2 separate regions of the Homo sapiens genome follow, and region 1 is linked to region 2. Evidence: fine-mapped expression QTL. A gene starts in region 2. The other region holds a variant in brackets. All regions are shown on one strand. Distances are between the middles of the regions. Region 1 has its middle 100 kb from the start of LINC03124. Region 2 holds the start of LINC03124 (long intergenic non-protein coding RNA 3124).

The links. PIP is the estimated chance that this variant, and not a neighbour inherited with it, causes the effect.
Region 1: its variant is the best candidate, but not a certain one, in a credible set for the expression of LINC03124 in whole blood (INTERVAL, PIP 0.87).

The regions. Positions count from the first base shown.
Region 1 is chr2:131,785,062-131,787,971 of GRCh38, reverse strand. No RefSeq gene overlaps it. Among named protein-coding and RNA genes, the nearest start is that of LINC03124, 100 kb to the right of the region's middle. The variant C/T (reference allele first, on the strand shown) is at 1,368.
Region 2 is chr2:131,681,219-131,684,128 of GRCh38, reverse strand. LINC03124 (long intergenic non-protein coding RNA 3124) reads right to left here and starts at 1,630. Exons shown (of 10, transcript NR_167889.1): 1 at 1,141-1,630. RefSeq lists a silencer at 1,658-1,707 and an enhancer at 2,078-2,197.

The DNA of each region.
Region 1 (2,910 bases), 100 kb before region 2:
TGGGGGTTGCTGCCTAGGGTGAGGTTCTAGCAAGACTTACAAGCAGAGCTCAGGGAAAAGTCTGCATGGGAAAACAGAGCCAGACTTAGAAGGCATTGCTGATGAATCCCATTTTCTTATTACAGGAGAGCTAGCAAAAACTGCAATATGATGTGTAAAGTCAGTGCAATCTTATGGAAATTATACCAAGTCACAACATGAGGCATGAGATACCTCAGATGTTGTTCCCTCTAAATCTCATGTTGCATTGTGATATCCCCAATGTTGGTGGTAGGTCTGGAGGGAGGTGATTGGATCATGGGGGTGGATTTCTCAGGAATGGTCTAGCATCATCTCCCTGGTGCTGTCCTTGTGATAGTGAGTGAATTCTTGCAAGATCTATTTGTTTAAAAGTGTGTGGTGCTTCCCCTGCCTTGCCAGGTGATGTGCCTGCCTGCTCCTTCTTCATCTTCTGCCATGAATAAAAGCCTCCTGAGGCCTCACCAGAAGCTAGGCAGATGCCAGAACCATGCTTGTACAGCCTGCAGCTATACAAACTTCTTTTCAAACCTCTTTTCTTTATATATTTCCCAGTCTCAGGTATTTCTTTATAGCAATGCAAGAATGGCCTAATACAGAAAATTGGTTCTGAGACATGGGGCATTGCTATAAAGATACTTGAAAATGTGGAAGTGACTTTGGAACTAGGCAATGGGCAGGAGTTGGAAGAGTTTGTAAGGCTCAGAATACAGGAAGATGAAGGAAAGTTCTGAATGTCTTAGAGACTAGTTAAATGGTTGTGACCAAAATGCTGATAGTGATATGGACAGTGAAGGATAGGCTGATGTGGTCTCAGATGGAAATGAGGAACTTACTGGGACTTCAAATAAAGGTCATGCCTGTTATGCCTTTGCAAAGAACTTGGCTGCAGTCTGTTCATGTACTAGGGATCTGAGGAAGTTTGAACACTCAGATGCAGGAGCAAAAAATGACTTAAAGTTGGAATTTACAATTAAATGGGAAAAGCAGACCATACAAGTATAGAAAATGTGCAGCCTGCCCATTTGGCAGAGGAAGATAAAGCATTTTCAGGGGAAGAATCTAAGCAGGCTGTGGAGCAACCACTTATTAGAGACATTTGCGTAACTGAGAAAAAGCTAGGTGCTGATAGCCAAGACAATTAAAAAAGGCCTTGAAGGCATTTCAGAAAGCGTTGCAGCAGCTCATCCCAGCACAGACCTAGAGGTCTAGGATGAAAGAATGGTTTCTTGTGTAGTGGGAATTTATAAGTTAATTAATTTATTTATTTATTTTGAGATGGAGTCTCATTCTGTCACCCAGGCTGGAGTGCAGCGGCACAATCTCAGCTCACTGCAAGCTCTGCCTCC[C/T]GGGTTCAAGCCATTCTCCTGCCTCAGCCTCCCAAGTAGTTGGGACTACAGGCACCTGCCACCATGCCTGGCTAATTTTTTGTATTTTTAGTAGAGACGGGTTTTCACTGTCTTAGCCAGGATGGTCTCAATCTCCTGACCTCATGATCTGCCCACCTCGGCTTCCCAAAGTGCTGGGATTACAGGCGTGAGCCACCATGCCCAGGCTGCAGTGGGATTTTTTAAGGAATCAGAGACCAATGGGGTTGAGGAGGATATTTATTATTTAGTTGCACCGGCCCAGTCAGATTAACATCCAAAGGACTGAGTCCTGATCAAAGACTTAAGTTACCTTTTAAGCGTTTTGTAGGGTGGTGGGGAGTGGGGAGATCTGTCCAGGGGGAAGCGTATTACAGAAGCGAGAAACAAAGACAGTTATTCAATTAATTGAGACATGCATTATATCATTTCTTACTTTTCAAGGAAAAACATGTTTTACGACTTGAGTTTATCTGTCTAGTGACCTTGCAGCTGCGCAGCTAGAGGAACAGGGTCTTCACAATGCCTGGGAAAGGAGGAGAGATGAGGCTCACTAGCCACAGAAAAACCGGCAGTTAATTTTTAAAGGGCTCCAGCTCTTTCTCTTTCTCAGGGGGAATTGGGTTTTCTTACATACAACTGAGTTTCTGCTTACACATTCTTTAATTTCTTTTAATTCCTGTTCCACTTGGACCAGGGCCAGGGCACCACTGCCCTGTACCACCCCCAGGAGGGTGTTCCTTGCATCCTGGCCCTTCTAGCGCCAGCCTTGGTTCAAAGGGCTCCAGATAGAGCTCAGGCCATGGCTTCAGAGGGTGCTAACTATAAGCCTTGGTGGCTTCCATGTGGTGTTAAGCCTGCAGGTGAGCAAAGTGCAAGAGTGAAGGAGGCTTGGCATTCTCTGCCTAAATTTCAGAGGATGTATGAGAAAGGCTGGATGCCCAGGAAGAAGCCTATGCCCAGCTGGAGCCCTCAAAGAGGACCTCTTCTAGGACAGTGCCAAGTGGAAATGTGGGGTTGGAGGCCCCACACGGGGTCCTGACTCGGGGGGGCTGCCTAGTGGAGCTGTGGGAGGGGGGCTGCTGCCCTCCAGATCCCAGAATGATAGAGCCACCAGCAGCTCATGTCTTCAGTGTAGAAAAGCTGTGGGAGCAGAGCTGCCCAAGGCCTTGGGAGCCCACCCTATGCATCCTGGGAATGCTCTATGTTCCCAGGATGTGGGACATGGTTTCAAAGGAGATTATTTTGGAACTTCGAGATTTAATGACTGCCTTGCTGGGATTTGAACTTGTGTGGGGCCTGTAGCCCCTTTCTTTTGGCCAATTTCTCTCTTTTATAATGGGAAGGTTTACCCAATGCCCTGTACCCAAATTTTATCTTAGAAGTAAATAACTTGTTTTGATTTTACAGGCGCATCAGTGGAAGGGACTTGCCTTGTCTCAGAAGAAACTGCACTTTCGAGTGATGCCGAAACAGGTTGAGACTTTTGGGGGACTATTGAGAAGGGATGATTGTATCTTGCAAT
Region 2 (2,910 bases):
CAGGGAGGACAAAAACATGATCAACACAAATATGGACACAATCAACTGACTTTGATAAAGAACACTGCAATGTGGAAGGCAGAGAATGAATACCTTTGACAAAAATGATATCCAGATGCAGAAGCGAGAAATAGGACCTTATTTTACACGATGTATGAAAATGAACACCCACTCCCCCAAATTGAAGGCAAAACAAAAGACCATAAACTACAAAATGTTTTTAACTAAAACACAGGATGAGCATATATTTTGGGTCACTTGAATCTCTGCTCACCTTTGCAAAGAGGAAAATAAACACCCTGGAAGAAAAACCTCATTGACAATTAAATGCTTTGTCACTGACATATTATTTTCTTATATGGGTGACGAAAATTACATGCATGAAACGCAAAAATAAATATCATGTTGACTACATCAACATGAAAAGTTTCTGCACATCAAAGAAAACTACTTTCCAATTAAAAAAGCATCCTATAGATTAGGCAAAAATTTCAGGCAATCTTGTAATTCACGAGGAGTTGTCATCTAATATGTACACAAAAAACACTACAAAGTAGCAAAAGCATCCAATCTAATATTTTGCAAAGAACCTGAACAGACAATTCTGCACAGCCATAAAATCGAACAACAAATAAGAGATAAGGTCCTCAAAATCAACTATTCATTAGAAAACTGTAATTCAAAACCACACACAGATAATCTCACACTTATCGAATATTCCTTGATTTTTTTAAAAAAATAGGAGGGGCTGGGAACGGTGTCTCATGCCTGTAATCTCTGCACTTTGCGAGGCTGAGGCAGGTGGGTCACCTGAGGTCAGGAGTTTGAGACCAGCCTGACCAATATCGTGAAACCCCATCTCTACTAAAAATACAAAAATGAGCTGGGCATGGTGGCGGCGCCTGTAGTCCCAGCTACTCTGGAGGCTGAGACAGGAGACTTGCTTAAAACCAGGCAGCGGTTGCAGTCGGCCGAGATGGCGCCACTGCACTCCAGCCTGTAAGACAGAGCAAGACTCCGTCTCAAAACAAAAACAAAAACAAAACAAACCCCAAACCAAAAATAGTAGGAATGCGGGTGTGGTTTTGGAGAAAGGGAAACTCATACACTGTAGGTGGAAATGAAAATTAGGATACACACCATGGAAAACAGCTAAATAGCTGGAGACTCCTCAAAGAACTGAAAATACAGATGCCCCCTGCTCTAGCGAGGTCTCTTTTTAAAGGTGCTGAGGCATCAAAAATAATCCTAGACTCCAGCTCAGAGGCCCCTGGGGCTCCGAGGGACCCAGGTCCCGCGTTTTACCGCCAGCTGTGGGCCAGGGCGCTCCTATACGCTGGACGCGGGTCGGACATTGGCATAGCCTTCCCGGCCGGGGTGCGGACGCTGCAGTAGCCAGGACCGCACAACCGCCCCCAAGCGGAGGACTCGGGCCCAGATGCCCACGAAGAAGTGCGGGCACGAAAACAGGGAGAGGCAGGGAAGGAGCAGGGAGGGTTCCCGGTGGGGTCCACGCCCCCGCCACTGACCGCGGAGACCTGTCTCCTACTCCACCATCACATGGAACCCACCACCGCTCAGAAGCTCGCTCTGACCACGCTGCTGCTGCTGCAGGGGCGTCGCAGGAACTGCAGTCTCAGCTCCGTAGGGACACGCACGCTAGCAGCATCCCTAGTGCCAGGTTGAAGCTCCACCCCCTCTTAAAGGGACCGCGGCTCGGACTTGCCAGAAGCCGCTTAGGGTTGCGGCACAGGCTGAGCCTCTGCCCAGCCCAGGGGACGACGAAAGGCCCCTGGTCTCTCATCCTCCCCAGCTTTCGGGCCCTAGAAGTCGCAGGAGCGCTCCCTGTGACCGCCTCCCGGAGATCGGCTCCCTTTGCCTAGGGAGCGCCCAGGACCTGCCCCTGCCCTCCTCTGGACCTCAGCTTCACCATCCGCAAAGGAAGCAGCCTCGCTAGAGCTCTGGGGGTCCCTCAAGCTTGGCGTCTCAGGATCCAGGGTGGGCTCCCCTGCCCCTCTGCAGAGGGGGCCCAGAGAACCACAGAAAGCTGGGGGCTGGAGGGACAGTTCGGAGGGCAGCAGGGCCTCCCCGGCCTCACTGTCCGCATCTGTCCTGTGGGAGCTCGCGGGCCTCGCTATGGCCCAGGCACCCACAGCCTCACCAGGGCTGCCTGGGTCACCGGGCTCTCCAGGAGGCAGGCAGGGGCCCTGGGGTCCAGCGCTGCCCCCATCTCAACTCTTTCCTTCATCAGGGCCCACGAGGGGCCCTGTGGACTGGACCCAGGCCCGCCCATTCCCAGGGAGAGGCTATTAATTATTTCCTCAATTTCAGAGCCTGTTATTGGTCTATTCAGAGATTCAGCTTCTTCCTGGTTTAGTCTTGGGAGGGTGTATGTGTCCAGGAATTTATCCATTTCCTTCTAGATTTTCTAGTGTACTTGTGTAGAGGTGTTTGTAGTATTCTCTGATGGTAGCTTGTATTTCTGTGGGATCAGTGGTGATATCCCCTTTATCATTTTTTATTGCGTCTATTTGATTCTTCTCTCTTTTCTTCTTTATGAGTCTTGCTAGCGGTCTATCAATTTTGTTGATCTTTTCAAAAAACCAGCTCCTGGATTCATTGATTTTTTTGAAGGGTTTTTTGTGTCTCTATTTCCTTCAGTTCTGCTCTGATCTTACTTATTTCTTGCCTTCTGCTAGCTTTTGAATGTGTTTGCTGTTGCTTCTCTAGTTCTTTTCATTATGATGTTAGGGTGTCAATTTTAGATCTTTCCTGCTTTCTCTTGTGGGCATTTAGTGCTATAAATTTCCCTCTACACACTGCTTTAAATGTGTCTCAGAGATTCTGGTATGTTGTGTCTTTGTTCTCATTGGTTTCTAAGAACATCTTTATTTCTGCCTTCATTTTGTT